Linked DNA regions of Homo sapiens: region 2 is linked to region 1. The links come from fine-mapping of genetic effects on gene expression. A gene starts in region 1. The other region holds a variant in brackets. All regions are shown on one strand. Distances are between the middles of the regions. Region 1 holds the start of UBA2 (ubiquitin like modifier activating enzyme 2). Region 2 has its middle 15 kb from the start of LINC03049.

The links. PIP is the estimated chance that this variant, and not a neighbour inherited with it, causes the effect.
Region 2: its variant is the best candidate, but not a certain one, in a credible set for the expression of UBA2 in whole blood (INTERVAL, PIP 0.85).

The regions. Positions count from the first base shown.
Region 1 is chr19:34,425,457-34,430,835 of GRCh38, forward strand. UBA2 (ubiquitin like modifier activating enzyme 2) reads left to right here and starts at 2,925. Exons shown (of 17, transcript NM_005499.3): 1 at 2,925-3,114; 2 at 5,120-5,203. The coding sequence starts at 2,977. PDCD2L (programmed cell death 2 like) reads left to right here. Exons shown (of 7, transcript NM_032346.2): 7 at 534-712. The coding sequence ends at 664. LOC124904695 (a long non-coding RNA gene) reads right to left here and starts at 2,908. Exons shown (of 2, transcript XR_007067232.1): 1 at 2,666-2,908; 2 at 650-945. RefSeq lists silencers at 2,813-3,052, 3,083-3,192, 3,263-3,422.
Region 2 is chr19:34,873,240-34,878,618 of GRCh38, forward strand. No RefSeq gene overlaps it. Among named protein-coding and RNA genes, the nearest start is that of LINC03049, 15 kb to the left of the region's middle. The variant C/T (reference allele first, on the strand shown) is at 3,182.

The sequences.
Region 1 (5,379 bases):
TACACCCAGTGAATTTTTTTTTTTTTAGTAAAGTCTCACTGTGTTGCCCAGGCTATATGAGATATATATATATTTTGTTTGTTTGTTTGTTTGTTTTGTTTTTTGTAGAGACAGGTGTCTCACTATGTTGCCTAGGCTGGGCTCAAGCTGTCCTTCCCCGTCGGCCTCCCAAAGTGCAGGGATCACAGTTGTGAGCCACCGCACCTAGCCAAAAGCTATGTATATCACATGAACCATGTAGATTAATATAGATTTTCAACATCAGATAGCTAGACAGTTATAATGAACACTTGCTGAAATTTTTGTTTATTTTTAAAGTATATTTTCCTGCCACTTTAAATTAATTTTGCTTTTTTGTTATCAATATTCACTTATTATAGGATAGACTGTGATTCTGTTATAGCTGAAAGCAGTAAGCACTGTTTTTGCTTTACCTAATTACTTTTTCAGCTTATAAGGTAAAATCATTCCTTTTAGTAACATCAGTCTCATAACTCTTTTTGCTGGAAGCCTGAATATGTGGTATTTTTCAGGTCTTTCTGTGGAATTTGGAACAATTCTAGTTTACACATGTGAGAAGAGTTGCTGGCCCCCAAATCATCAGACTCCCATGGAAGAATTTTGTATTATACAAGAAGACCCAGATGAATTATTGTTTAAGTAGAGCATTTCCTTTTATTAATATAAATTAAAACAAATGTTTACATCCAAATATGTTTGTATGTACCTTATTTTAACTCACAAGTTATTAACCTCTGTTTTTCTGAGTTGCCTTTTTGCCTTTGGGTGCTGGTGCCGGGGCCGGGGCCGGGCCAGGACCTCCTGACTGTGGGTTGGTCTGCCCTTCCAGGGTCCAGGGCCAGCTGTCACAGTGGCAGCTAGGAAGGTAGCTCCTCTCTAGTCCAGAGGGCTGGTGTTGTCTGCACAGCCGTTCTGGTGGGCATTCTAGGGGGGAGGAGAGCAGCGAAAGAGCCAAGAGCAGTGGTCAGCCTCTTGTGTACACCTCTGACACGTGCACTCCAGTGCTTCCTATGCTGTTTCTGGCACCTGATCAAGCCACTGAACCTGCTCTAGCTGCTGGAGGTTTTTGCTCTGTGACCCTGGCTGTTTAGACCTGCCCATGTTCATCAGCCCAGGTCCCCGCCCTCACCCACTCCCATCTTCTGCTCCTGCAGTATCCCAGGAAGGGGTCTTTACTCCGTTCTGGAGACTGTCCCTTTATCCAGCTGCCTTCCAGTCTTCCCCTTTCTTTATTTTTAACATGATCAACCCCTTCCCTTCAGCCCCATAACAGCAGTATAAAAACACTCCCAGCCATGTTCAGACATGCTCTGCCTACGTAGATGAGGATAATGAGGCCTAGGTGATCATGGGGTGGGCTTGTTTCTTGCATTTAACATTATATTTGGAGCATTTTCCCATTAATATTTTTCCCACAACATAATTTATAATTGCTCTATTTTTTAAATATACATCAAAAGCTTTATACAATTTTTAGCCACTTGTATTTTCCAATTTTTATTCCCATGATGGCCATCCCTGTAACTAAATTTATATATATTTTAAATCAATGATAACTGCTACAGGACAGTTTCCTAGAATTGGAATGAATGAGTCAAAAGTTGTGCACAATTTTAGGGTTTTTTTTTCTTTTTTTTCGAGACAGGGTCTTGCTCTGTCTCTCAGGCTGGAGTGCAGTGGTAAGGGCATAGCTCACTGCAGCCTCGACCTCTCAGGCTTAAGTGATCCTCCTGCCTCAGCCTCCTGAGTAGCTGGGACTACAGGTGCAAGCCACCACGCCCTCTAGAGAAGCTTTGCTTTGGAATCTTTACCTGGAGTGTGTTGGAGTGCTTGTTTCCCAATCCCTTGATAAGTGTTACTTATTTTTTCTTTCTACCAGTTTAGTAGGTGAAAAACTTTTTTTTTTTTTTGAGACAGAGTCTCGCTGTATTGCTCAGGCTGGAGTGCAGTGGTGCAACCTCCGCCTCCTGGGTTCAAGCAATTCTCCTGCCTCAGCCTCCTGAGTAGCTGGGGCTACAGGCTTGTGCCACCACCCCCAGCTGTTTCGGTGTTTTTTTTTGTTTGTTTGTTTGTTTGTTTTTTTGAGACGGAGTCTGTTGCCCAGGCTGGAGTGCAGTGGCGCGATCTCGGCTCACTGCAACCTCTGCCTCCTGGGTTCAAACGATTCTCCTGCCTCAGCCTCCCGAGTAGCTGGGATTACAGGCGCACGCCACCACGCCCGGCTAATTTTTGTATTTTTAGTAGAGATGGGGGTTTCACCATGTTAGTCAGGCTGGTTTCAGAACTCCTGACCTCGTGATCCACCCGCCTCGGCCTCCCAAAGTGCTGGGATTACAGGCGTAAGCCACCGCGCCCGGCAGGTGAAAATCTTACCATTTTGCATGGTTTACATTTTTTTCTTTTTTGAGACGGAGTCTTGCTCTGTTACCCAGCCTGGAGTGAAGTGGTGCGATCTTGGTTCACTGCAACCTCCACCTCCAGGGTTCAAGCGATTCTTTTATGGTTTACATTTTAATACGCTTATTGATCATATTGTCCAATTTTTTGTGAGTTTCCTGTTCACATCCTTTGCCTATATTTTTTTGGGGGTGACACTTGTTAATTTGTAAGAGCTCTTTACGTATAGGGACATCAGTTTTCTAACCTGTAAGGAAGTCTTGGCTGGGAGTTGAAACCCCAGGCTAGAAGGCGACCCTTAGACTTTTTAGGTCTGATGGCGGGCCTATGCTGGTGTGGGAATAACACCGCCGGTCTCAGCTGGAGGTCGCCAGCCCTTTGCAAGAGCCTGCCGGTCCCCGCGGGCTGCAGCACACCCCGGCGCGATGTGCCCTGCCTGTGTCTGCCGGAGGCTGTAGTGCGCAGGAGCGGAAACCAGGCCGCCCTTCCCCCACCCGCTTCCGGCCGCGGCTCGGTTCTCCCGCCTCCGCCTCCGCCGCGGCTCGTGGTTGTCCCGCCATGGCACTGTCGCGGGGGCTGCCCCGGGAGCTGGCTGAGGCGGTGGCCGGGGGCCGGGTGCTGGTGGTGGGGGCGGGCGGCATCGGCTGCGAGCTCCTCAAGAATCTCGTGCTCACCGGTTTCTCCCACATCGACCTGGTGAGGGCCGGGCGCGCGCGCGTGAATGGCGGGCTGTGGTGCGGGGGCTGGGATTCGGGGGTTCCGGGGCTCCAGGGGCTCTGAGGCTCAGGGCCCGGAGCCCGGGACCGGAGTTGCGGAGCGGGGGCAGGCTGAGAGGCTCGGGTTGTGCCCCCCCCGCGGGAGGAGACTGTTCTTTGGGCACGGGGCGGGCCTCCGCTCGCTGGGCCGGCTCCGGACGCCGAGGAGGCCGCGGGCCCCCGCCTCCCCGGCAGCGCCAATGTGTGGCGCTTCGTGGGCGTGAAGCCGCCTCTTATCCTCCCTTCAAAACAAATTCCCGGCTGTTAGGAGATGCGGGAGAGGATTGAGTCCCTCGCGGATGTTGTGACTTTAATTTTGAGGTCCCTGTCGTAACTCCGAAGTAACGACGCGGGGCGGAGGATGGCAATGATAGCGACCAACGCGTCCCGAGCGCTGGTCACGAGCGGGTTTACACACGGAACGCGCACCATCTTCATACCACCCGAGGAGTGCAAACGCTATTTCCACCCTGCTTTATTTTTAACAGATGAGGAAAGGGAGACGCAATGGGGTTGAGTAACTTACCCTGGGTCACGGAGCGAGTGGCAGGGCTCCCGCAGGCTGCGTGACTGTCATTGCTCTCACAGTAGACGGTACACTCGCTTGTTTCATTAAAGACGTTAGGACTGTGCCTTTTGCATTGGTGTACGTTGACAAGCCAGTGCTATTTTGAATCGTTATTTCTACTAATGCAAACTTTTTAGAGATTGGAGATGTTACTGGCCCTTCGGTGTGAGTTTAAAGTGTCTTAAGGGCTAGTGGAAACATGGAATGAACAAAAAAGTACGGGTGGCCGACTGAGTCATTGTTTCTTTCCTTTATGTATTATATATTTAAGCAAAAATTAGATAAAACTTAAAACATGATACTTTTTTAACCATGTGTAAAAGTTTCCTTTCACAGTTCTCAGGTTAATAGTAAATGAAATTGTGTATGGATGAAGGCTTGAATTAAGGGAGGCAGCAAAAATTCAATAAACGTTTGCCATGTATCATTTAAGAAAAAGAACAGAACCTGGGCAACATAGAGAAACCCCGTCTCTACAAAAAAAGAAAATTAGCGGGGCGTGGTGGTGTGCGCCTGTGGTCCCAGCTACCCGGGAGGCTGTGTCAGGAGGATCGCTTGAGCCTGGGAGGTCGAGGCTGCAGTGAGCTGTGTTTGCACCACTGCACTCCAGCCTGGGCAACAGAGGGAGACCCTGTCTCAAAAAACAAAGAAAAAGAACAGGGCATAGTTAAATTTAATATTTTGTACTTGAAAGAGTAATTCGATTGAAAGAGAAATACTTTAGTATTTTTTGAGACAGGGTCTGGCCCTGTCACCCTGGCTAGAGTGCAGTGGCCCGATCTCGGCTCACTGCAACCTCCGCCTCCCAGGCTCCAGTGATCCTCCACCTCAGCCTCCCGAGTAGCTGTGACTACAGGCATGTGCCACCTAATTTTATTTTTTCTATTTCTTGTAGCCACCAGGGTCTCACTATTTTGCTTAGGCTGGTCTTGAAGGTCTGGGCTCAAGCGATTCTCTCACTTTGTCCTCCCAAAGTGTTGGGATTACAGGTATGAGCCACCACTCCCGGTGTAGAGAAATATGTTAATATATTTTCAGTTAGTGTTTACCTCGACAGCACATATAGTTTTAATGAATTCACATATTTTTATGGCATCCAGGGAGTTTCCTGAAATATTTTCCAGGATGATTAAACAAACAAAATATACCATTCTTTCAAAGTATTTTTGAGAAGTTTATCTCTGACATTAAATCTAGATTCTTACATGCATTAAATTATTCTTTATCAGTTTAACAATTTTGGTATGGCGATTCGAAAAACGCTTTCTCCACTAATGTAGCAGATATCAAAAGTTCTGGATTACAGGTGCTGAGAGTAGTGATACAGCTCAAACATACGTAAACGTTTGTCATTTATCTGGGGTTTATGCATTTGTAGATTGATCTGGATACTATTGATGTAAGCAACCTCAACAGACAGTTTTTGTTTCAAAAGAAACATGTTGGAAGATCAAAGGCACAGGTAACTATATTTCTCATACCATTTCTATAACTTGATGGAGCTTCTATTTGTGATACCAGATTAATCCTGCCTGTCATATAGGAGGGAAAAAATGGGTGAAGCTCTCATTTCAGCTGAGAGATTGTGAAGGATAAAGATATATCAAGTAAAGGACTAAAGATTAAGCCCTCCTTTTT
Region 2 (5,379 bases), 450 kb after region 1:
TAGGATTACAAGCGCACCTGTCAGAGTTTTCAGGGACGTGGATGAAGCTGGAAGCCATTATTCTATCTTGTTTGTGCCATCACACTCCTCTCCTAGGGTAGAAGGTAAAGTTCCACCCTTGAGAGAGTTTCAACAGAGCCAAGTTTCTGGTCTGTAGGCCCTCAGGTCCCGTAGTGACCTCTGGGAAGTGAGGCGGGGGAGGGCAGCTGATCACAGGGGGTCCCTCAGAGCCTCTGGTGCAGGTCGTGAGTCACACACACTCCGCTCGCTGGCATTTCTGGACAGCCTCTAAAGCTCAAGCCCACTTAGGGTCATGTTCGCCAATGGAAAAAGGCGAGACTGCCAGAAGGGATGAGACTGGCTCCCCTAGGAATCAAGAACTCCCAAGAATTTGTTCCTTTAAGAGTGAGCAGAAAGTTGCTGGCAGAATTTGACAACTGAATTGTGGTAGGTAGAATGGAGCATGACCAGCCCTGGAGTCAACCAATATGGCTGCAAGTCCTGGAACTTCCCTGGCAGTGATGGGCTCAGAGGCCAAAAGATAGCATCCACCTGGCCTTGAGGCCTGATGCGGAGGATGCAGCTGGTAAGATGTTCAGGGGGCCCTGGTCAGGCCCACATCCCCCATACTTTCCTCCAGGACTCAAACTAAGGCCAAAGCCAGTTTTCTCTGACCGGCCTGTTGTGGTGTACACCTGTCCTTGCCTCCCCACTGACTTTTAGCTCCACATTTTGGGTGAGTCTTGCATGGGAAGTTAGTACAGGTGGGAGAAGGATGTGACCAGGATGCAAAGGTGACAGTCGGGGCTGGGAAAACATAACGATTTTAATGTTTCTAAAACGGAGCTGACAGACAATTCACAGGACGAGGAGGTTTCTTCACAGAAACCCAAACTCAGATGCTGCCCCTCTCTGGGTTCAGCCCCAGCATGCCCTCAAGCACCTCGCATCTCCTTCCTGCCCCAGCCCGGGCAGGCGCTCATTCTCCTGTTACTGGGTCATGAGGGAGCCGTCCTCATCCTAATCTGTCTGACATTAGCCCCGTCTCCACACTGGGCTGGTTCTCACTGAGGTCTGCACGGAATGACCAAGGAGAAGATTTCATCCTTGCAGATGAGGAGTGGGTGATCCTGGGGAATGGGAACCCTGCTGTGGGCCCAGGACTTTTGCAGGAGCCCTTTGGTCCTCCTAGTCAGACTTTCTGATTTAGTTTTCACCAGGCTGATTCCAGTAAAACAACTGCAACTCAACTCTCAGAGCCCAGGGACGGTGTCCTGTGTGTGGCGCGTGGGAGGCCCAGCAGGAGATCTTGGGACATGGTGAGGGGTTGTGACACGTGAGGCCATTGAGAACATGTGGACTGGAATTAGGCAGAGCCAGGATAGGTCTAGGCCCTGCCGCTGACTAGCTGTAGGATCATAGGTAAGCCGTTTTATCTTTCTGAAGCTCTGTCCTCATTTGTAAAATGAGGACCCAGCTAAATAACATACATGTCACCCCAGGATTCATCAGCCTTGGGAGGTTACAATGACATCAACAGCCATAGAAAGCCTTTCTCTGGCTCTGCCTTTATTGGAGCTGCAGAGTCTGCAGGCCCTGGAAGGCCTGGTTGAAAAGTGACTCTAGAAATGACCTGCATGAGCTCATCACAAGCCCTTTTAATTTAATCTCTTCGTAGCGTCTGTGATTTTCTGCTATTTTCCTGAGGAGGCTGAAATTTCTGCAAAGACGCTCTCCATAGATGCTGAGCATAGAGGCTTCGGTTGCTTCTGCATTCTACTACTGGGACCAGGACTCCCACCTAGTCTTGGCCCAGGAGGAAGGAAGAAAGAGAGTGGAGGGAGAAGCTAACGTAGAGGGAGTGTTGGTGTCAGGTACTTGTAGGATCTGCCACCTGGGGCAAATTACAAGATGCCACTGAGCCTACTTCCAAATGCATCGAACAGGGCCACTTTATCTCCCAGCAGGCCAGTCATGGGGCTAAGGTGTAGAGACTAGGTTAGGTGAGTTGTGTGTGACTGAAAGACAGAAACCAGGTTTCACCTGCACTTTTACAGAGAGTAGAGCAGTGCCAGGCTCCAGTGAGTATGGCCCACAAAAAAGTGGGAAAATAAGTAGTGTCTCTATTGTCTGAGTCTTGCTGGCATAATTAGGTCTCATGCAGAGAGTTAAACTTGGGACTTGGGGCTAAGAGGCCTGAGGCTTGAGTTCCGGCCCTCGTCTGACCTGCTGGACAAACCCAGGCATTGTGCTTCATTTGTTTACTCATTTTAAAGCTTGATTTTACATCTACCAAGTGCTGGGCACTCTGCTAGACTTAACATTAGATGTACATATTATACTGAAAGGTACAGCATTTTACTGAGAAGTACAACATGAAATTTGAACAGATGAAGAACTAAATTGCGCTCTTGTATGGCGTGAGTCCACCTTGTAGGGATGTTAACTCTTCCCAGCTCATCTTTGTTTCAAAGGAAATTAATCAAGTTTATCCAAAAGAATAAATGCTTGAAATCAGTCAAGAAAACTTAGTGTCTGGGATTTACATGAGGAAGAATTCAAAGGTTGCGTGGATTAGAAAGGGAGGCATCCAGAATGATGAGGAAATCAGGAGTAGATGAAAATATCTATTATTTGGCAACCCTAATAAGGTATAATAAATATTAAAGAAACAAGTGACACAGTTTTTACCTGTCAAATTTGAAAAATAAAAATATATTCTGAGCACATAATTTCATAAAGAAGAGTACATATATCTCCACACTCACATACTCTTGTGGGGATGAAAATAGATGTCGTCATTTAAAGGAATATTAAACTTTAAGAAAGTTTTGGCTGGACATGGTGGCTCACGCCTGTAATCCCAGCACTTTGGGAGGCCAAGACGGGCGGATCATGAGGTCAGGAGATTGAGACTATCCTGGCTAATATGGCGAAACCCCATCTCTACTAAAAATACAAAAAAAAAAAAAAAAAAAAAAAAAAGCTGGGCACGGTGGCGGGCGCCTGTAGTCCCAGCTACTCGGGAGGCTGAAGCAGGAGAATGGCGTGAACCCGGGAGGCGGAGCTTGCAGTGAGCCGAGATCGCCCCACTGCACTCCCGCCTGGGGGACAGAGCAAGACTCCGTCTCAAAAAAAAAAAAAAAAGAAAGAAAAAAGAAAAAAGAAAAGAAAGTTTTTA[C/T]CTTATCATTAAATAGTTATTTCATAAATACATCATTTCAAAAATTATCTCATAAATAAATCCTAAGAAAATAAACATAGCAAAATTAAAAGAAACCTACTTAAAAGTGAAATAATAAGAATGGTGGGACGTATTTGTAGTCATTGAAAATAATGCTTTTGAAGACCATTTAAAGATGTGAAACATGCTAATGTAAAATAAACATAAAATGTAAAAGACAAAGTATGAAACTTAATATTTATTTTAATTTAAAAATTAGAATACATATGTATTGACAAAGGTAAAACAGATGAAACTGTGAGATCATCTATGGTAGTGGGATTCTGGAAAATTGTTGTTTTCCTTTTTTTTCAACCTTTTTGTATTTTCTCAGTTTTAATTGAGCTTGTGTTACTTTTACAGTTTGAAAAGAAAAAGGGGGCGGGGAGAAAAAACCACCACCGGCAAGACAGTGGGAGGGAAAAAAATCAGTAATCTATTTTTATGCAGACACCAGGCATTTTCTGTTTGAGGTTAATTACCAAGTTTATTTAACTAGAATTCCATTCTAATCAAATGTTCATCTGTGAGAATGTCCTGATATATTTTCTTCTGTTTTAATCTTCTGCTAGTGACATATTATAACAATGTATGTAAGATACTGAACAAGAAAGAGAAAAAGGCAGTCCTTGGGTTTGGTGCACACGAACAAATGACAGTTAACAATTTAAACCAAATAGGCCGGGCGCGGCGACTCACGCCTGTAATCCCAGCACTTTGGGAGGCCGAGGCGGGCGGATCACAAGGTCAGGAGATCGAAACCATCCTGGCTGACACGGTGAAACCCCGTCTCTACTAAAAATACAAAAAAATGGCCGGGTGTGGTGGCGAGCACCTGCCTGTAGTCCCAGCTACTCGGGAGGCTGAGGCAGGAGAATGGCTTGAACCCGGGAGGCGGAGCTTGCAGTGAGCCGAGATCGCGCCACTGCACTCCAGCCTAGGCGACAGAGCAAGACTCCCTCTCAAAAAAAAAAAAAAAAAAAAAATTTAAAAACCAAATTAATTCAATAGGATTTTGTGCTTTGCGCTTCCCCTGGTCTCCACAGAACTGTGACACAGCGTACTGAGGAAACTCTTTGCCTTACACTAAACCTCACAGGTCCTGAACAATCAAGAGCTTTGAGAAGATACACAACTCTGACGGCTTCTGGAGAGAGCATGTCTCTCTTTCCCCTGGGCTCCATGCCAGCTTGCCAGAATTTTTACAATTTGTTTTCCTCATTTTTCTAATTATGTTTCCTCCTGAAAGTGATTATAGATAGAATTCATTTGTATTTGTGGAGACTTCTTTATCAGATCAGCAAGTTTTCCTTTTTTTACGAGTTAATACTTTCATCTTTAGGGTTCTCAGGGAATACACAGCATATGTCAAAACAAAAATGAGATGAAAATTCCTAGGTAATTTTTTTTTTACTTTTATTTTAAGTTCATGGGTACATATGCAGGTTTGTTACATACGTAAACTCGTGTCACGTGGGTCTGTTGTACAGATTATTTTGTCACCCAGGTACCAAGCCTAGTACCCAATTGTTACTTTTTCTAATCCTCTCCCTCCTGCCACCCTCCACCTTCCAATAGGCTCCAGTGTGTGTTATTCCCCTCTTTGTGTCCGTGTGTTCTCATCATTTAGCTACCACTTATAAGTAAGAGCATGCGGTATTTGGTTTTCTGTTCCTGCATTAGTTTGCTAAGGATAATGGCCTCCAGCTCCATCCATGTTCCCATAAAGGACACAATCTTATTCTTTTTTGATGACTGCGTGGTATCCCATATTTTCCATCATATGTATCACATTTTATTTATCCAGTCTGCCATCGATGGACATTTAGGTTGATTCCATTTCTTTACTACTGTGGAGTGCTGCAATGAATACATGTGTGCATGTGTCTTTATGGTAGAATGATTTATATCCCTTTGGGTAGATATCCTTACTGGGTTATTTATGCCTACCACCAGGCAAAAATAAAATAAAGAAAAGGGCTTCAGACGTTAAAGACTTATCAATAGACCTTTTTTATATGAATGTGTATGGCTGTGTGTGTGTCTCAATATACTGTTGCACTGGAGCTGCTGCTGGTTTTTTTAAATTCACAAGCCCCTTTCACATGAAAACAGTGTTATGGTTGGGTTTCCACAAAGATCTATTCATATCTGAAGTA